Regions from separate parts of the Homo sapiens genome. Here all the other regions are linked to region 1. The links come from fine-mapping of genetic effects on gene expression. A gene starts in region 1. Each other region holds a variant in brackets. All regions are shown on one strand. Distances are between the middles of the regions.

What was found. PIP is the estimated chance that this variant, and not a neighbour inherited with it, causes the effect. A credible set is the group of variants that fine-mapping cannot tell apart.
Region 2: its variant is the best candidate, but not a certain one, in a credible set for the expression of B4GALT1 in whole blood (TOPMed, PIP 0.83).
Region 3: its variant is the best candidate, but not a certain one, in a credible set for the expression of B4GALT1 in whole blood (TOPMed, PIP 0.88).
Region 4: its variant is the best candidate, but not a certain one, in a credible set for the expression of B4GALT1 in whole blood (TOPMed, PIP 0.55).

The regions. Positions count from the first base shown.
Region 1 is chr9:33,164,302-33,169,529 of GRCh38, forward strand. B4GALT1 (beta-1,4-galactosyltransferase 1) reads right to left here and starts at 3,035. Exons shown (of 6, transcript NM_001497.4): 1 at 2,457-3,035. The coding sequence starts at 2,868. B4GALT1-AS1 (B4GALT1 antisense RNA 1) reads left to right here and starts at 2,647. Exons shown (of 3, transcript NR_108110.1): 1 at 2,647-2,745. RefSeq lists enhancers at 36-85, 2,886-3,451, 3,369-3,468, 3,452-4,016, 3,539-3,618 and silencers at 2,787-3,060, 2,819-3,218.
Region 2 is chr9:33,127,921-33,132,920 of GRCh38, forward strand. All of the region lies in intron 2 of B4GALT1 (beta-1,4-galactosyltransferase 1), which reads right to left. LOC124902141 (a long non-coding RNA gene) reads right to left here and starts at 4,329. Exons shown (of 2, transcript XR_007061455.1): 1 at 2,356-4,329; 2 at 1-1,069. The variant A/G (reference allele first, on the strand shown) is at 2,959.
Region 3 is chr9:33,117,453-33,122,452 of GRCh38, forward strand. It overlaps B4GALT1 (beta-1,4-galactosyltransferase 1), which reads right to left. Exons shown (of 6, transcript NM_001497.4): 3 at 2,967-3,154. Among named protein-coding and RNA genes, the nearest start is that of MIR12117, 11 kb to the left of the region's middle. The variant T/C (reference allele first, on the strand shown) is at 2,811.
Region 4 is chr9:33,024,115-33,029,373 of GRCh38, forward strand. DNAJA1 (DnaJ heat shock protein family (Hsp40) member A1) reads left to right here and starts at 1,159. Exons shown (of 9, transcript NM_001539.4): 1 at 1,159-1,269; 2 at 2,361-2,502; 3 at 2,699-2,876. The coding sequence starts at 2,371. It also overlaps a transcript of APTX not described here. RefSeq lists enhancers at 1-594, 917-1,211, 1,189-1,783, 1,740-1,809 and silencers at 1,070-1,219, 1,500-1,639. The variant C/T (reference allele first, on the strand shown) is at 2,229.

The sequences.
Region 1 (5,228 bases):
GCTCGACTCCCCCCACCCACACACTCCCAAGGAGACTTTCAGCTTTCTCAAGGCCTCATAGCCAGGAACCTCCATTCTGAGAACTGTACCTAACCACCCAAACCTACAGACCCTATTAAAATGAAGAAAAGACCTCTCGGCCCCCATTTCTGGGGCTGCCTCAGCAGCAGCCTAAACGTCATGGTCTCTTGCATGTCACATGAAAGCAGCCAAAATAGAGAAGGCACTCTCTCCTCGTCCTCCAAAATGTTCTTTCTCAGGAAGTCCTTTCAAGTAGCCAATTATAGTCCATTTAGAAACACCAGTAACTGGTGACAAGCCGATCACTAGCAACACCATTACAAAACAAAACTAAGCAGAGGTATGGTCACGACCTTGTCTCTTACGCTTCTGAGAGAAGATGTGATACTCAAATACCAATGTAATCAACTTTGCGGTACTTTTGTTTAACTTGCTAATTATTTTTTCTTTCTGTGCAATATCCAGGCAACAACTAAAAACAAAAGCAAAAAACCTGGCCTTTTTCTGGCCTGGAGACTCAGTCTCTCTCCCCCTTCACTCTGCTGTGCAGAGCCATTTCTGTGGGAGTCTGAAAAAATGAAACTTTTTAAAGATCCTAAGCAAATATTATTACTATATTATTATTATACGGTGTATTGAGTGCCCGTATTTTTTTTTTTTTTTTTTTTTTTAGACAGTCTTGCTTCGTCGCCCAGGCTGGAGTGTACTGGCACAATCTTGACTCACTGCAACCTCTGCCTCCCAGGTTCAAGCAATTCTCCTGCCTCGGCCTCCTGAGTAGCTGCGATGCCACCACCCCTGGCTAACTTTTTTGTATTTTTGTAGAGATGGGATGGTGTTTCACCATATTGGCCAGGCTGGTCTCAAACTCCTAACCTCAAGTGATCCACTCCCCTCAGCCTCCCAAAGTGCTAGGATTACAGGCGTGAGCCACCATGCCCAGCCTGAGTGCCTGTATTTAATGTACACGATCTCATTTAGTCTTAAAAAAACCCCTGTAAGGTAATCATCGACAACCACATTTTACACAAGGAAGAGATTTTGAGAAACTCGATAGCATGTCTCAAGTCAGACACTTAGCAGCAAGGCAGAGTCCATTTCATTTTATGGGACTAGTCTGCTTCCCAGAATAATCATCAAATGCAAAGGAATTTAATTATCTGCTTAAAAAAACAAGCCCCCATTATTACCACAGTTCACGTCTGACCAATTCCAAGATGTTCTTCCCAAACTTGATATGAACACATTGACGCAATTACTGGCGAAATTGAGCAAGAGTATGTAGTAGCCAGGGCTCTGTGGGAAAGTGACAGAAAACTCCTATTGGCAGGATGTCATCCTGCCTGCCAGGGCCCCTCACTTACAACAATTATCTAAAACCTAGCATTAGAAATGAGAAACCACCTGTGTGGTAACCCTGGAAGCAACCTGTGGTTGCCTTGGGCCTGTGGGCCTGTAGGTTACAGGTCAAAGAGAAGTCCAGACTAGGCTCAGCCAGCTGCTATGAGGAATGCAAACTCACCTACTCAAGCTCTCTGCCTATGCTGAAACAGGCTAGAGGTCAGAGTTCAGATCATCTGGGCAAGATAATTGAGACTCAGGCTGCTACCGGAAGTACCAGAAATGGGCAACGTGGTGTTGACTGGTTATATTTTAGCCCTCTAACACCCAGAGTACACAAGCTCTCTGCCCCTGGGAGAGATCCCTGCTCACCTAGGTTTTGGGTACCCATACCAGGAGGAGGCTAGGGGGAAGGGCTCTCGGTCACGATCCACACAGAGGAAGAAATGAACACACAGTGACAATTTACTGAGGGCTTACCCTCATTAATTAAGCCCTTATTTACCATTGTTCACAATATCTTCCAAAACAACCCCTTGAAAGGGTGACCATTTATTATCCCAGAAGAGAAATATGAGGTTCAGAGAGAAGTCACTTGGCCCAAACGATCAGGAGAAAAACCCACTCAGGAGAGTGGCTCTATGGCAAGACACGTGAACCGAGAGGTCAGTCTCCTTCCCCACCGGGAGCCTCACGTCAGTCCCCAAAAGGGAGTGGATTACTCGAGGTCCCTACCAGAGTTCTCAGTGCAAGGCTGCTCGAAGCCCTAAGCAGACCCAAACTCCAAAACTTCCTGAGCCTCGGGCCACAGCAGGGAAGTCTCCAAGGCCTTCTCTGGTTCTGGGGCTAGAGGGGCCTCGGGACTTCCCTGTGCGGTCCCGGCCCCACGCCTCCAACAGGACTCCCCAGGGACCCACCTCGCAAACCTTCTCTCCCATCCAGTCCCAAGCCTCTGTCTGGGATTTAAAACTCTGATCCAGAAGAGGGAGGCTGGCTGTCGTAGAAGAGCCAGCCTGAGGGAATGTCTGGGGGACCCTGTCGGGGAAATCCGGGGGGGTCCCAATCCTCCGACTGGCGCCGACCCGAGTCCTTACCAAGCAGCGGGGACTCCTCAGGGCAGGCGGGCAGCGACAGTGCGGTGGTGTGGGGCACTGGGACCGAGGTCAAGTTGCTAGCGGGGCCAGGGCCAGAATCCACGACTGGGCTGGAGTCGCCACCCGGGCGCGGCTGGGAGGAGGCGCCTAGAGGAGGCGGCGGCCGGGCCCCTCCGGTCCGGAGCTCCCCGGAGGACTGCCCGATGGCGGCGGCACTGTTCGAGCCGCCCTGCAGCGGTGTGGAGACTCCGACCAGTTGGGGCAGGCGGCTCAGGTCGCGGCCAGCCAGGTAGTAAACGAGGGTGACGCCAAGGTGCAGAGCGCAGACGGCCACGAGCAGGCGGCAGGCCCGCTGTAGGGACGCGCCTGGCATCGCGGCGCTGCCGCTCAGGAGCGGCTCCCGAAGCCTCATCTTCCCGCCGCCGCTTTAAGAAGGGTGTGGGCTACAGGAGGGGAGGCGACCCGCCCGCGGGCCGCCCGCCAGGCGCTGCCCCACAGCGGCGACTAGGGGAGGGCCCGGAGCGGGGGCGGGCGAGCGGCTGAGAGCTGAGACTCCTCCAGCCAGCCAGACCTGGGAGCGGCGAGAAGCCGCCCGAGGCGCCGGCGGAGAGGGGAGGGGCGGGGCCCCGGCGAAGGCGGGGGCGGGGCCGGGCGCGGGGTTTTCTGGACGAGGGCGGGAAGGCGGGGCAGCCCGTGGCGGGATGGGCGCGCTGGGCGGGGCCTCGGGAGGGTGGGCAGCGGGCGGGGCGCCGTCGTGGGGTCCCCGGAGTATGACTGCAGCTCCGACGCTTGGCCGCGCACCGCCCTCTTCCTCCCGAGCCTTTGCGGCGGAGCTTCGGTCGCGTTGAGCCGCGCCTCCTCTTCCTCCTCCACGCTGCCCTCGACAGGCCGCGCCACTTCCTGGGGTGCGAAGGGACTCGGGTGCGAGCCTGGGCCTGCAGCGCGGCGGCGGAGAGAACGGAGAGGACAGCTGGCGGGTGGTTATCTGGAGTGGTTTGGGGCCGCGGCGGCGTTCTGGCCAGTGGGCCTTGGTGGGCTAGGAAGAGAGGCAGAAAAAGGTTACCCAGGAAACGGGCTTCGACGCCGGGCGAGGAGTGGCACGTTCGAAACCCCCTCCCTAACTCAGCCCGGCTGGACCCCGCTGCTTAACGGGGGGTCCTGCGGCAAAGAAAGTGGACGGGTTGCCACTTCTGTGCCTCCCCATCAGGTAGCCTGGGCTATAAGGGGCTCTCAGACCAGCTTGGTTCCAGATGTGTGTGTGGCGGGAGTCCTGTATACTTTGAAGAGGAGAGCAGCAAGAAGCCTCTAACTCCCAGGCCAGCGTGCAGGAGATCAGCCGGCGTTACAGTCTACACTGGGCTACCCACTGTCCCATGAAGTAGCAGTTCTCCCCATGTCGTAGAGTGGGGCCCCGGCAGATTAAGAAACTTTCCTAAGAGCCCACAGCTGGCAAGAGGCAGAATTCTGGCTCCGAAACCCATGTTTTCTACAGGTTTACCCTTTGTTGATTTGCAAGTAAGGGCTGAAGGCTGTGTGGGTGAGAGACTTAGGCACTGAAGCCACTTGACCTCGATTTGACCCAGAGGCCTCAGGCCCTGAGTGAGCAGAGACACCTCACCCCAGAGAAAGACTCATGGAGGTGCTGTCAGTAATGTGGATAGGGAAGTTGAGGGCTCTGGCAGCCAACCATCAGGGAATAACAGTAGCTACCTTATTTTGAGAGTTTGCTGTGTGCCAGTACTATCTGCCATGAAGTAGGTGGTGTTACGGTGTCCATTTCACAGATGAGAAAATAAGGCTTATGAGTTGACACTTTGGTTGTGATCATACAGAATCAACTTTCCTCACTTGACTTCCTGGACACCAGGTCCTTCTGATCTTCCTCACTTCACTGGCCATTTCTGTCTCCTCTCTGGACTTCTTCCCCAGTTGCTGAAGGCCCCAGCCATAGTCCATGATGTTCTTTTGTGTCTACACTTACTGCCTCGGAATGATTTATAATATCCAAATGCTGATCACTGATTTGTCTCCAGCCCAGATCTCTTCCCTGACCTCCAGATTCAACTGCTTATTTTACTGGCATCTCAAACACAATACATCTTGCCCTCAGCAACCTACTCCTTACACACCACTCCCGTTCTTACCTCCCTCAGAGAGTGATACTATTGTTTATTCAGTTCCCCAGAATCTAAAAGGTGTCCTTGATGTGCTTCTCTTGCTCTCAATGCCATTTGCAAGCCCTCAGCCAGCTTTGTCAGTGCTACCTTCAAAACATCAAAATTCACCACCAGCCAACTCTGATGTAACCATCCTCGATCAAGCCACCATCATCTTGCCCTGGGTTATATGGCAGCTACTAATTGGTCACCCTGCTTCCACCTCCTCCATTCCTCCTCCCTAGTCTGTTTTCCACAGAGCATCCAGGAAATCTTTGTAAGCATAAATCAGATCATGCCATTTTGTTCAGAACCAAATCCACAGAAACCCTGTTCAATCTGGTTCCTATTTCCCTCCCCACCCACATCTGTCACTCTACCATGCTGGACCTGCCTTAGCCACACTAGCCTGATAGCTATTCCTTGAACTTGCCATATTTCTTCCTGCCTCAGGGCCTTTGTACTTGCTGTTCATTTAGCCTGAAACACTTGTCCCCAATATTTCATTCAATTCAGGTCTCTTAAATGTCACCTTATGACAGAGACCTTTTCAGACTACCTTATGCAGAATGGCCTCCTGCCCAAATCTGCTTAAACTGCTTGAATTTTTTTTTTT
Region 2 (5,000 bases), 36 kb before region 1:
TTGCCTAGGAGACCCCAGGGCCTGAGGATGGCACACTCATGGGATTATTTACATAGCCTCCCCCTGACCAGCAGGGCCCTGGCTCTGGGTTGATTTGAGGACATGTGAACATTACCAGGGTGGTGGTGGCAGCGGTGGTGGCAGCAGCAGTGGCAGCGGTAGTTAGGTCGGCATTCCTCTCTCTCTCTCTCTCTCTAGGAGGCGGAAAGTACAGAAGAGAAGGTAGGTGGAGAATAAGAAGCAGATCAGAGAGGAACTCCTCCTTCCACTTGCTTTGCTACAAACAGGATTAACAAGTAAAGGTAAAAGGCCCCTGCTAGAAGGAAAACAAAAAAGAAGAAAAAGAGAAAAGGGTGGATGCAAGGGAGAGAGGTGAGGAAAAGAGAGGCAAATGTCAAAGCTGCAAGGGAAAAGGGGCCCATTCTGATGACCACTGTTCCAATGCAAAAACAAATTCCTAATAAGCTGTCATTCCTTGTCACAGAGTCATGGGTGAGCAGAAAAAATGGCATTTCCCAGAACAATGTCCATGGAAGCAATTCACCAGCAAATTGAGTCCCCAGAGAACAGAGACACACATAGACTAGGTGGGGCACACAGCAAAGGGGCAACACTCAAACAGTGATGGTGCAGAGACACTCCCTGGCCTTCCCACTCCCATTCCCCACCCCGGCAAGCTCCAAAGGGTCCAAGTGCCCGAAGGAAGGGGAGGCTACAGGACAGGACCAGCCCTACCCCACTCCTCCCAAGCTCCGTTCCCACACACATCAATCTGTGCACTGACAGCTGAGGTAGAAAATGGAAGGCCGGGATGGGGGGATGGTAGAGATGATCAAGATAGAAACCAAACCAATGAGGCCATAAGCCCAGGCAGCTGTCCTCACTAATGGGATAGACCCAGGAGTCTGCTTCTCCCCAGTTGATCTTGACCTTGTGTAGGAACCAGCTGCTTGGACCAGTGACAGAGACAACTGCTGAGGTAGGGTGACAGATACTCTTGCTCACTGAGGGTACAAAGGACTGTCTCCAAATCCATCCTCAACCAGCCTGGAACTATCACCCCATCATCCTAAAACAGTGCACAGAAGAAAAGGAAACAGTAGAAAACTTCAAAGCCAGACAGAGTCCTCAGGGCAGCCCTCCCTCCATTTCTCCACAGCCTTTCAGGCAGGCTCCAGCTCTGCTTCCTGGCCATCGTGTGCTTACCTGTGGAGCCTTCCCTCTGCAGGAACAATCAGAAGACCATTTGCCTTACTCTGGGGGATGGGGGGAGGTGGGAGGTTCAAAATTCAAAGTGAGACCATAAAGGTGCTGAGTCCAAAGGACCCTAAAGGAGTTTTGTGACCATTAACAATCACAAGGCTAAGGTATTAATAGGTTTTCTGCATTTTTCCTGATAAGGGAGGTCACCCCAAGGACTGTCACAGGCAGCCTGTGCTCTGGTCAGCATTGAGCTGGAAGCTTCGGGGAGAGGCCCAAGGGAGGGATCCTGCAAGTTCCCAAGGGTCAGGACCTGGCCCCACTGGGAACGGAGGCTTCACTTCCAAGAGGCACAGATTTAGGCAGAAGACCAGGAGTAGGGAGTCCTGAGACTAGGGATAAACAAAGGGGCAGGAATCCTGGAGAGAAGCCCCGTGCTCCACTCACTGACTGCGTCTGTACTGACTATGTACCAGCTGTGTGGTCAGAGAGAAAGAAGGGAGGCAGACATGAGGGACTCAGAGTCCGGGGGCTGGGGTGAGGCTGGAACTCAGATAATCATCCCTTTCCAGAAAGTTCTGAGCAGCCTGGGAGCAGCAGGGAAGGAGAAGTCAGCTCTATTCCAGGGGCTCCACAGAACTAATGAGGTTGGGGAGGGAAGCTTAAAAGATAGCCAGAGACACACTAGGAACACAGGGGACAGCATAAGCAAAGGCACACAGAGGGGAGAACAGAGGTGTCTGGGTGGAGATGGGGAGTCCAGTGAAGTGGAGAGGAGGAGGAAGTGGCTGGAGGTAGGTCAGGGTCTCGGATGCTAAGCTTGGGCCTTCCGACCATTTAGACCGTTGCCTGTAGGCAGTCGTGAAATGCTAACAGGTTTAAAAGAGGAAGTAACATGGTCAGAACCAGAAAAATCCTGGGCAGCTGAGGGAGAGGAACAGAGGTGCCAGAAGATATGCAATCGGAATTGGAGAGACCAGTTCTGTGTACTGGCTGTGGGGCAAAGGGCTGCCATGGTTGTGACAAACCCACCTGGCCAGCTGTGCCTGCATTCCTTACTCATTTTGTAATTTTTATGATGGGCAATCCCACAAACATTCTGCATTCCTTAATTTAGGGCTAGTGCTACCAGGTGGTGACCTGCCCTCCCTTCACCTTGAGTGAAGTCTCGTTTCCGGGTTTGAGTATTAGGAAATGCAGCATGCATCCCTGTTTGCTATGATGTCTTCTCCTTCTGTTGCTTCTTTTCTTGCTGCCGTTGAAGTTGGAATGCTATATCTTGAAATCCACGTCTCAGAGTACAAGGAGTCAAATAGTATTCTCCCATGCTGGTGAGCTAAGGTCAGGGGTGGGAGGAGAGACCTTAAGGAAAAAGAGCAACTCTTGTTCTTCTATATCTCAACCAGGAAAGCCTCTCCCGGCTCATTCCTTCAATATCCTTATTTTAAGATATAAGTTAGTACAATAATTACAGAGGCATAAGCCAAATGGGAGTGGTTAACAGCTTACTATAGACAGAGTATGAGTCATAACAACTTGTGAAAGTTCACTCCTGTGTGTAAAGCTTGATACGTGGCCCTATTTTGAAGAGGCTTATAGGCCCGGGATGGCCTCTGAGATTCTGCCACCTGGCTCACTCCACTATCCATTACCCTCTGACTCCAAGGAGTTCAAACCAATAGGAGGAAGGGTCCTGATGCGGGCCCTGAGTGGGGGTGCAGCAGGAGGCGGTGGGAGCCATGAAGAATTCACCACCAC[A/G]GAAGCAGGCAGAGGAAGCAGGCAGAGGAAACAGGCAGGATGAATGGAGAGTGGAGAGGCAGGAGTGGACCCTCCTAGTAACGGCTGGTATTTACTGAAGGTTTACCATGAGAAGGATGCCTCATAACCCTCCCCACCAAGGAGGAAACTGAGGCCTGCAGAGCTTAAGTAACCTGCCTGAGGTCACTGACTGTAAAGTGGCAGTGCCAGGACTGAACCCAGGCAGTCTGAGCACACAGCACACTCTCAGCCCTGGATACCAGACTGTGAGCAACACTGGGGGCACCCTGGCCATGAGGAGTGTCACTGATGCCCTGAGAAGGCACTAAACCTGGAGTCAGACGCTGGGGTTTGAGCCGCAGCCCTACTGTTGTCTATGTGACTTTCGGAGCCTGTCCCTCTCTGAGCCTGTTTCCTCACCTGTGACATGGAGCAGAAGTTTCTACATTGTCTGGCCTCAGGGGTCTAGGCAAATCCTAGCAGTGACTGAATGGGAAGCCAAGGAAGTGGAAATGGGACATGGCCCCTACTTCAAGTAGAATGAAACCCTTGTGACCTGCTGTAAGCGGAAGGTTGTGTAGCATTTCAATGGGGCAGAAAGAAATCTGATACTGAAAAGCCTGTTTGGGAACCCTTGGACTAAATGTCTCAGAAGCCACTCCATTTTGAGCATTACTTCTGTCTAATCTTAAATGGTATGTGTGTGTGTGTACATGTGTGTGCATGTGTATGTGTGTGTGGGAATGAAAAGTCAAAATGACAGCAGGGTGTCTGGGCCAGGGATAAGCTGAGAGGCTATAAAGAGGGCTAACAGCCCATAAGGTTTATTTGCTCAACAAACAGTGCAGAAAGGTCAAAACCAGGTGCTACAAAATCCCTTTCTTCTTCTAGAATATAACCATAAAACAGATAACACAGGCAGTTCCTAATTTGTAGACAGGATGTGCTCCAAATGTTTCTCCTTCCACCTCTTTTTTTTCAGGGTTCAGGTTTCCCATTACCATTTTATTATTTATTAGGTAATATTCTTTACTGGAAAGGTATGGCAGAGTTTAAGCATTTCTCAACTTAGTTATCTGGACTCTGACCATATTTTCCCAAAATGATCAATTAGGGTGAGATTGGAGCAGATGATAAGAGAGTAGCTGGGGAAGTGGGAGAAAAAGCAGAAAAGATTCTCCTAAGGTGGAAAGTTAACCCTTGGAGAAGGAAAGGATGAAGAGAAAAAAAAGTATGAGGAAAAGCAAAGAAAAAAAAAAGATGATATTGACAAGATAAGAAAAAAGGAGGTATATATGTTTGAAAAACCAAAACTAAAATATTCCTGATGCTAAGTTGTGAAGTGGGAAGAGGAGGGAGGGAGGGAGGACGGGCAGTTCCTAGTGTTCCAGGGAAAGCAGGGAGGCAGCTGGGAGGAGATGCTAACTTAGGCCCGCTTTCCCCAAAGTGTGACTCACAAAACACTCATCACTTGAGACGGTTCTTGGAAAAGTTGTCTCGTCAGGCAAGCTCAGGAAACACTTCTGGGGTTACAGTGTACACCGGGGTACCAAAGGCTCTGCGGGAATGAGACCTGCTTTACATGGTTCAACCCAACATTCCTCAAGCGTATTTCGCTCCATTTGGGGAAGCACACTTTTGGAGAAGCACTCTCTTAGGTGGTGCCCAGTGTTAGCCAGCACAGCTGTGCCACCGGTCTGAGCTGGCTTGGTTAGTTGTTCCATCTACTCGGATTGAGGTGGGCAGGAGCATGTAGCTGGCAGAGGACATTCAGAAATCTACTGTGTTGAGCCTGGGGAGTATGTAAATTGTATCATAGGAATTTAAGCTGATGGCTAGATTTTACTGGTCCAATATTTGACTTCAAAACAGGGAAGTCTCACATTCACCTAAACTGCAACATATCTAGACGTAGCATCCCACCCTCCAGTCTTCCTTGAAAACAGCCACCTCAGTTCAAAAATTCAGCATCATCGCTAACTCTTTTATCCTCTTTACCCAAGTATATATTTTATTTATTTATTTATTTATTTTATTTTTTT
Region 3 (5,000 bases), 47 kb before region 1:
TCAAGAATCAGGACGTGCCCCAAAGCCTTCCTGTGGGTTCTCTAAAGGCTGTGGTTTTGTGTGACTCTGAGTGCAGCTCCAAACCACACCCAGCTCTTTCTGGAATCCAAAAAGACCAAACCCATCACATAAATTAAGGAAAACTCTAACTCAGACTTTGAGGGGGAAGTCAGCCAAACCATACAGAACATATGAAAATAAAGATGCAATTATTATTTTCAAATATATTCAGGAATTCTGACTGTAAGGATCCTCAAGCAAAGGTCCCCAGGGGGTCTGCTTTAATGAACCTATTCGTAATTAGGTGTCATCACTTAGGTGCTGAGTCATCCACCTTTGGCACACCTCATACTACTGTCCACATTATTAATGTGAGGGTTTGAACCAAAGGTGGCCAGGCCAATAAGGTTTTCTGATAATCAGTGCTTTTACAGAAATGGATTCTTAGCTATTTCAGAGGGAAGTACATGCCAAGCTGACATGATTTGGTTTTGCTGTCTCTGCTGCTTTCTCTCCCCTATCTGCCCCAAGCCCAAACCTGCCAGGCTCCTTGTGAAACAAACATGGTGCTGTGGCAAAGAATTAGGGCATCACGGGCCCCTTCCTTGTTCACCACTGTGCTTCAAGGGATGAATCAAGAGGGGTCAGGGTATAAACCTGTGTGTTTCAAGAGAAGAAGATACACACACGGAGAGGGAGGAAGGGTGAAAGCGGGGACGGAAGGGTATAGAAGGATTTCTGAAGAGTCTAAAAGTAAGGTTACATTCAAATTTTCCTCCCTTTAAGACAAGAAGTTAGGATTTTTGATCTGGGAGAAGGACTTCATACATTCCTATATTCCCATCACAGCTCTCATGCTCCCAGCAAGGGAGGACAGGAAGAAATGATGAGAATAAAATGAGTCTGACAGAAAGCTGTTGCATCTCAGCAGGTGCAGTAGTTCATGCCTGTCATCCCAGCACTTTGGGAGGTCAAAGCAGGAGGATTGCTTGAGCCCCCAGGAGTTCAAGACCAGCCTGGGTAACATAGTGAGACATCTCTAAAAAAAAAAATTTTTTTTTTTTTAAATCAGCCAGGGGTGCTGGCCCACACCTGTGGTCCCAGCTACTAGGAAAGCCGAGGTGAGAGGATCACTTGAGCCAGGGAGTTTAAGGCTATAGTGAGCCATGATCACGCCACTGCACTCCAGGCTGGGTGACAAGCAAGACTCTGTCTCAAAAAAAATAAAAGAAAAAGAAAAAAAGTTGTATCTAAAATAAAGGGTCTGCTGTCTACATGAGCCAACCACACTGTACTAGTCAGCCTAAACCAGGGGTACCCAACATAGAGGGTACCTGCAGCACAGCTCCTGGATCTTCAGATTCACTTAAAGCAAGGAAGGAAAGGGTTTTGTTATTCAACTGATAGGTTTTTTTTTTTCTTTCTCTGAGACAGAGTCTTGCTCTGTTGCCCAAGTTGAAGTTCAATGGCGCGATCTCAACTCACTGCAACCTCTGCCTCCCGGGTTCAAGCAATTCTCCTGCCTCAGCTTCCCGAGTAGCTGGGATTACAGGCACCTGCCACCACACCTGGCTAATTTTTGTATTTTTAGTAGAGACAGGGTTTCACCATGCTGGTCAGGCTGGTCTCGAACTCCTGACCTCAGGTGATCTGCCCGCCTCGGCCTCCCAAAGTGCTGCGATTACAGGCACGAGCCACTGCACCTGGCCACTGACAGGTAATTTAAAACACTTTTATGTTAATATAAACACGGAATTAGGAAACAATATACAAGTTTATTTATATATTTACTTTTAAGACAAAACAATGGACTATAAGGCCATTTTCCACCAATGACAATATGCTTTGGATAATACGCTAGTCGGGCATCTGGGCTGGCCACTTCACTAGGGGCATTTTGGTGGAAAAATTTGGGCTTTGTATTTAAGCAGAAGTTTGTGCCCTGCTGGAAAACAGAATCACATTCCTTCTTATAGGGCCAAGGGCGGGAGCAGTGGTTCACACCTGTAATCCCAATGCTTTGGAAGGCTGAGGTGAGAGGATCACTTGAGCCCAAGAGTTCAAGCCCAGCTTGGGCAACATAGCCAGACCTCATCTCCACTAAAAATAAAAAATTAGCTGGACATGCTGGCTCATGCCTGTAGTCCCAACTACTCAGGAGGCTGAGGCTGCAGGATGGATTGAGCCCAGGCAGTCAAGGCTGCAGTGAGCCATGATTGTGTCACTGCACTCCAGCCTGGGTGACAGAGCAAGACCCTGTCTCAAAAACAAAACAAAACAGGCCAAGGAACATCTGCTGAGGTATACAAGCTAAATAATTCAGTGGGGGAAAACTATTCCAATTTACTTTCCAAAACTTGTGGGGCAAGAGAAAGAAAAAAGCAAGAAAATACAGTATCATTTGGAGCTTAAAGATGAGAGCCCCTCCCAAATGCTAAAAACTGTTCTTAGGCCAGGCATGGTGCCACATGCCTATAATCCAGCACTTCGAGAGGCCAAGGCAGATGGATTGCTTGAGCTCAGGAGTTCGAGACCAGACTGGGCAATACAGCAAAACCCCATCTCTACAAAATATACAAAAATTAGCTGCGCATGGTGGCAAGTGTTTGTAGTCCCAGCTACTCAGGAGGCTGAGGTGACAGGATGGCATGAACCCGGGAGGCAGAGGTTGCGGTGAGCCAAGATCACGGCACTGCACTCCAGCCTGGGTGACAGAGCCAGACCCTGTCTCAAAAAACAAACAAAAAAAAAAAAGGGGGGAAAATTTGTTTTTGTCTGGATGTGCAGAGACTACAGGCATTTCTGGTCTC[T/C]TCTTTCCATCTCAACTAATACAAAGCACCCATTTCTCAGAGGAGGCATTCTGCTCCAGAGCTTAAAGAGGCACTCTTGAGCTGCCAGGACTGCATTTCCTAGTCAACACATGAGAGAGACATGTTTACCACAGATTCTGACTGAGTATCTCTTACCTGAATCCAAACTTATCCATTGCAACGGAAATGTGCCGTGGCTGTGAAAAACACCTGTACGCATTATGGTCATTCATTGGAATGAGGTCCACGTCACTAAACACAAAGCAGGTGTAGTCATAGTCCTTCAAGGCTTCTTGAAAGCCAACATTGAGGAGCTTAGCACGATTGAATATAGTGTCTCCCGCCTGGTGCAGAAACAAAAACAGTGATATCAAATGCCTTAAAGCCTTTGGGCCAAACACTCACAGGGACTGGTGACTTGTCCACTACACATGGTCACTAGGAAACTCTTGGGCCTCACTTTTCTGCCGTCACTCTACAATCAACACAGAGTACCAAAACCTCTGAGTCAGCAATTCCCCTCTAGAAATATATCCTGCAGAAGGACTTGCATGTGTGTGAATGACTATGAACAACATTGTCACTGTGGAATGTTCATCATAACAAAAGACTGCAAAAAACAGAATAATCAGTAGGGAACTGGTTCAATAAATCATAGTACATCCATACAATGGAATGGAACTGTTAAAAAGAGGCAGCTCTAAAAGGAAAGGTGAAAAAGGCATTTAAACACATACATCATTTATTTATACACACTATAAATAAACTCCAGGAAAGGTATCCAGGAAACTGGTGACATTAGTTGGGTACCTATGGGACTTTTCACTTCTACCTTCCTTATATGGTTGACTGAGGTTTGATGACCACATTGTGTGCCTTCCATCTACCTGTCAAGCACAAACCTAGGCACCTGAGAAATACAGCAAACCCAACTCAACCTCTGCCCTCACAGTGCTCACCATGGAGGGCAGAAGGCCATGCCATACACACCAGGACAGAAGCAAGGTGTGCAAGACAGAAGAGGGACACCTGCTTCAGGGTGCCAACCACGAGGTCCCCAGGCACCAAGTGTGCTGGTGCAAAGGGAATGCATATTTTTATTTTTATTTTTTATTTTTGAGATGGAGTCTTGCTTCATCACTGAGGCTGGAGTATAATGGTATGATCTTGGCTCACTGCAACCTCTGCCTCCAGGATTCAAGCGATTCTCCTGCCTTAGCCTCGCGAGTAGCTGGGATTACAGGCATGTGCCACCATGCCCGGCTTTTTTTTTTTTTTTTTTTTAATTTTCAGTAGAGATGGGTTTCACGTTGGCCAGGCTGGTTTCAAATTCCTGACCTCAAGTGATCCGCCTGCCTTGGCCTCCCAAAGTGCTAGGATTACATGTATGTTTTATTTGTTTTCTTTCAGTAAGAATGTAAGCTCAATGAAGGTTAGGATGTTTTGTTTTTTTTATTCACCCAGTTCCTTGAAGACTGCTTCTCACACAATAAGAGCTCAACAAATAGTTGCTGGTTGGCTGAATGAATGAATGAATGAATGGGGTTCAACATACAATGGCAGATGGTGATCCCTTCTGGGAAGCTCGACCAAAGAGCCCTGTGAGGGGTCACCACAGGGATCACATTGTGGGGTAGAGTTGGGAATCTGGTCTTATCAATTCCCATGGCCCCAGGTTAGTAAGGACAAACCTAGCACTGACATTGCCACGCCTCACTCTCAGCAGTTCACAAAGCCTCCTGCACACATGCTGTTATCCTAACCAGAATCTTCACAACACCAACATGAGGAAACGAACTAAGGCCCAATACTTTGGAATCCTCATTCAATGCTCTTTCCCATCTCTCTTGGGATCAACATAGTCAGAGCCCTCTACTTTGGGGAAAAAGTGTGTCATAGGGGCTTGCGACTGGTACACAATCTCAAAAGTGGGATGCTCAAAGTCTTCTCTCCATGCCCTCAAAAGATGACCTGGGCTGGGCATGGTGGCTCACACTTGTAATCCTAACACTTGGGAGGCCAAGGTGGGCAGATCACTTGAGTCTAGGAGCTCGAGACCAGCCTGAGCAACATGGTGAGACTCTGCCTCTACAAAAAATTACAAAAATTTGCCAGGCATGGTGGTCCCTAGTACTCTGGAGGCTGAGGTAGGAGGCTCAACTGATCCCAGGGAGGTTGAGGTTGCAGTGA
Region 4 (5,259 bases), 140 kb before region 1:
CTGTTGACTTGTTTGGCTTCTCACTAAAGTCTAACTGGGGCTTTTCAACTCTGCATCTCCAGTTCTGTTTTTGTTTTAAATCGAGACGGGGTTTCACCATGTTGCTTGGGCTGGTATCAAACTTCTGAGCTCACGCAATCAGCCCACGCTGGCGTCCCAAAGTGCTGGGATTACACACGTGAGCCACCGAGCGTGGCAAACTCCATCTTTCTTGGTGCTAGATACTGACATACCTGCTGTGTCCCTGGATAAAGAAGCGGACCCCAATTCCCATTAAGCCCCCGTGGTACCATTTTCAAGTCCGAGGTCTTACGTTGCAGATTGTACATCCAGGTTCCCTGACCCGTAGGATTTAAAAGTGAGGTCAAATAATTAAACAAATTGTTTTAGTCAGACACTCTTGCGGCTACTCTGTAGCCAAACTGGGTGAAAACCTGACCAGAGGAGTCCACGGCCCTCTGTACATCAAAGACGGTCCAAACGTCTCACTGTTTAGCTCAGTCCCAGACACACTGAGCTCAATCTGCACGAATCAGCGAGGTCCAGGGCAGATAACATGTGTCTAGGGGCCTGGACTTGCACAAAAAGCCTTAACAACTTCACAATTTGATTAATTATGCCGCCTTGGACCACGCGTGAAAAACAGCAAGACCCAAGGCCTATGCTATTGGTCTGGGGACTAGACCCACCTGGCTCAAGCATTTTTTGCTCGCCACGTTCCCAAAAAGAGAAGAGGCGCCCGTAAGAGGGGGGGGGGGGGGGGCAAGACTGTTCCAAGAGCTTTCCCGTTCACACACAGCTCCCGCTGGGTCACTGTACTCGAGCCCTTCCCGCCCTCGCGGGCCCAGGCGGCCACCCCACAGGTTTGGGAACCCTAGGACTTGCAGTGCTCCTGGGCCATGCCCCACCAGCCGGAGACTTCCGCACTCTCAGGCTCGCTGAGTGGAGAAAAGGGCTCCAGAAGATTCCACGAGCGCCGGGAAGCCGCGCTAGCACCAACACCCACAAGGCCTTTCGGCGCAGCTCCTCCCGACCCGTGCGCCCCCGCGCCGTTGCCCAGGTAACGGCGGGGCGGTGGCAGCGGCCGAGAAGGGCGGGACTTCCGGCGGGTGACGCGCCCGGGTTCGGCTACAAAAGAGGACGGCTGCGGCGCGCCGGGCGGAACTTTCCAGAACGCTCGGTGAGAGGCGGAGGAGCGGTAACTACCCCGGCTGCGCACAGCTCGGCGCTCCTTCCCGCTCCCTCACACACCGGCCTCAGCCCGCACCGGTGAGTTTGAGCCCTCGCGCTGCCCCTAGTCCCCTGGCTGGCGCCATTGGCGCCGGGAAACCGATGGAGCCGCGGTCGGGAGGCAGTTGGCCGCGTGGGTAGGACCGCTGTCAGTTCCTGGGCCCACGATTTCCCTTTTGGAGGGCTGGTGTGGTGCCCTGGCAACCCATCCCCGGCACGCACAGTGAATGGGCCCGAGACCTTTCCTAGACCTCCCTCCTTCCCCAGCCTGGGATCTCCAAGGAGCTACTGTCTTCGGCTGCCCCTCCGTGCGCGCCCCCGCGGCCCCCCTCCCCGTCCGTGCTCGCTCGGGGTGGGGGGGGGGAGTGGGGTTGGCGACCCTGCGCACGCGCACAGGGAGGCAGGGGCGAGGGGCTGCGGGGGGAGCCGGGCGGAGACTGCGGCTTTTGGTTTCGCTTTCTCTGTTTCCCCTCCCTTTGTTTGTTGAGGGCTGGGCTTTCCCCACCGCCACTTGGGTCCAGGGTGGGAGGGAGAAAGGAAGGAAATCGGTCAGCGCCAAGTGCAAGGGGAAACCTGGCAGGTAAACTCTGCCAGCCTGAGGGGCGAGAGGGATTCGGCTGGAGAAGCTGTAAGCCGTGGGCGGTGGAGGGCTTGCTGTGTGGAGCCAGTAACCTGTTCTATAAACCACTCCCCCCCACCACTGTGTGCCCAGACGTCTTTTTCTGGAGAGTATATGGAGTTTATCAGATTTGCCAAAGACAGTGATAGTGTAATGACCGGTAGACTGAACATATCAGTGCTTCTTTTGGTTACAACTGTCACCGCCTCTAGGGCAAACGGGAAGAATCCAGATAATAGTTGTGTTATATTAGTATGGAAGCTTTGGTGTAGGAAAATTGGAACCAGCTGCTAGAAGGCGGCTCTCAGATTATTTCCCGATAATGATTATTTGTTTTGTCTGTTCGAGTTTATAGCTGAATTATCGCAGGAATTGTTAC[C/T]TTTTTGGTGAAATTTAGGGAAGGTGGTGTTCTTATAATCGGATTTTGCAAAGAGATTGCTCGGCCTTAGCTCTCTTTTTTATTAAAAGCTACCAGTTGAAAGCCGGTTAAAGTTGCATTTTCTTATTTCAGGCAGTAGAAGATGGTGAAAGAAACAACTTACTACGATGTTTTGGGGGTCAAACCCAATGCTACTCAGGAAGAATTGAAAAAGGCTTATAGGAAACTGGCTTTGAAGTACCATCCTGATAAGAACCCAAATGAAGGAGAGAAGGTGAATAGTATCTACTCTTAAACGTATCTGAATAGTTCTTTGCCAGACGTATAGTATTTCTATTATGGCCTGAAATCGAGTATCTAATATAGTAACTATGATCACTTCTCGGCCTTTTTAGCTAAGATCAAGTGTAATGTAGCTAGGTAACACTTGTTTTTTAAAAAATGAAATTCACTCCTCTTTTCTCAAACAGTTTAAACAGATTTCTCAAGCTTACGAAGTTCTCTCTGATGCAAAGAAAAGGGAATTATATGACAAAGGAGGAGAACAGGCAATTAAAGAGGGTGGAGCAGGTGGCGGTTTTGGCTCCCCCATGGACATCTTTGATATGTTTTTTGGAGGAGGAGGAAGGATGCAGAGAGAAAGGAGAGGTAAGAAGAATCTAGTCTTTGTGCAGCTAACTAAAGTTAGCTGTTGGTCAGAGCAGATCTTTGAGAAATCACCCATTTTAAATGCTTGTTTACATGTTGGTATAATGTTGCAAACTGACCACAAATTGCCTCTGATTTATGGTGTCGTGTTTTTTTGTTGTGGTTTTTTTTTTTTTTTTCTTGAGACGGAGTTTCCCTCTTATTGCCCAGGCTGGAGAGCCATGGCGTGGTCTCAGCTCACAGCAACCTCCACCTCCCGGGTTCAAGCGATTCTCCTGCCTCAGCCTCCCAAGTAGCTGGGATTACAGGCATGTGCCACCAAACCCGGCTAATTTTGTATTTTTAGTAGAGATGGGGTTTCACCATGTTGGTCACGCTGGTCTTGAACTGCAAACCTCAGGTGGTGATCCACCTGCCTTGGCCTCCCAGAGTGCTGGGATTACAGGTGTGAGCCACCATGCCCAGCCAGTGGTGTCGCTTTTTTTAAAATGAGATTTAAGGGGCCTAAAAAATAGCCAACAGAGTGGTAGCAAATGACTGCTTCCAAAAATCTTAGATATTATCAAACAAATTATGAGAACAGGCCGCGTGCTGTGGCTCATTCTGTAATCCCAGCACTTTGGGAGGCCGAGGTGGGTGGATCACTGAGGTCAGGGTTCGAGACCAGCCTGGCCAAGATGGTGAAACCCCATCTCTACAAAACTACAGAATTAGCTGGGCGTGGTGGTGGGCATCTGCAATCCCAGCTCCTCTGGAGGCTGAGGCAGGAGAATCGCTTGAACCCTGGAGGCAGAGGTTGCAGCGAACGGAGGTCACGCCACTGCACTCCAGCCTGGGCAACAAGAGTGAATCTCTGTCACAAAAAACCCAAAAAAATCCAAAAATTAGCCAGGCATGGTGGTGCGTGCCTGTAATCCCAGTTACTCAGGAGGGCTGAAGCAGGAGAGTCGCTTGAACCCGGGAGGTGGAGGTTGCAGTGAGCTGAGATCGCCCAATTACACTCCAGCCTGAGCAACACAGCGAGACTCTTGTCTCAAAAAAAAAAAAAAAAAAAAAAAAAGACAAAGTATATAGCAATATAATTTTCCAAGCCCTTTTTACAGATCTTATTTGGTGTTCCCTCACTCCCCAAAGGAATTTGATGGTAGGTACAGTGGCCTTTTTCAAATGGGAGTAAGTTAAAGTTCAGAAACCTAAAACTTCTTCAAGCTCATATAGCAAGCCAACAGAGCCAGGGCTGAAAACTGGTTCGTTGCCTGCCATCTATCTATTCTTGTTTCAGCTTTATTGTGTCAAAATTATGTATTTAATATGTTTATCAGGAAAGTGGCCTATGGGCTCTAGAAATACTGCTTATAGGAGTAAAATGTTCAAGAGAAATCAGTCTCACTTTATTTCCAGTATAGTGTATACAAATAAGGGCTGATGAGCAGAACCAGTTTTAGAATGAATGGCCAAGCCATTAAATTTCACTTTGAGCTTCTTAAGGTTCAGAAAGATTTGGGAAATTGTTTATTCAGTTTTTCTTTAAAGATCTTCAAGGAAAGGATTATGTTTTTATTAAGATACTTAAACTCCTTAAAAAGAAAGTCCACAATCCAAATGACTTGCTTAGTAAATTGTTAGAATTTGTCCACAAAAAAGTAGTGGTGGTTTTTCACTTACCTTACAAAGAACCTGCAGGTTAACATTGGCAAGCTCTTTTATGTGGCTTATGATCATATTGAGAGGTTATTTCTGGGGAAATGCGCTTCATCAAGCTCTAGAAGCTTTATTTTTCCTTCCTTATACTCAACACTGTTCAAAATAAGGGCAGCTAGATTTTAGCGTGCCAAAACTAAAGGTGGAACTATAAGCAGAAGGACATAATTAATGGTATTTCATGCTTGATTAGAAAGTTAAAATGTTCATTAGGCATATTGTACAGAAACGAGTTTGAGAACTTTTTTCAGTTGGTGGAAAGGCAATAATATTGTTGTGAATAAGTCCTTGTGGAAGGACCACTAGTTAGGAACTTACTAACTTACTAGCAGGTGACTTCATACTTCTAACCTCAGTGTCCTTATGAGATCTTGACCTTCCATTTCCTATTCTGATTTAAGTGAAGTAAGGCACTCCTTAGTAGCCACTGGCCATGTGTGGCTCCATTAATTTAAGACAAAAACAAAAATACGGTTTCTTAGTCTAAATGGCCACATTTACATGCTCAATAAGCACATGTGATTGGTGGCTGCTACGTTGGACAGAACAGATATAAAACATTTATCACTGCAGAAAGTTCTGTTGGGCAATGCTATTATAAAAGGTATGAGAAATTTGGCCTTCAAAACAACCAGTGCTGGCCCAGCAGTAAATGGGCTGTTTTCTACTAAATCAGGAAGAA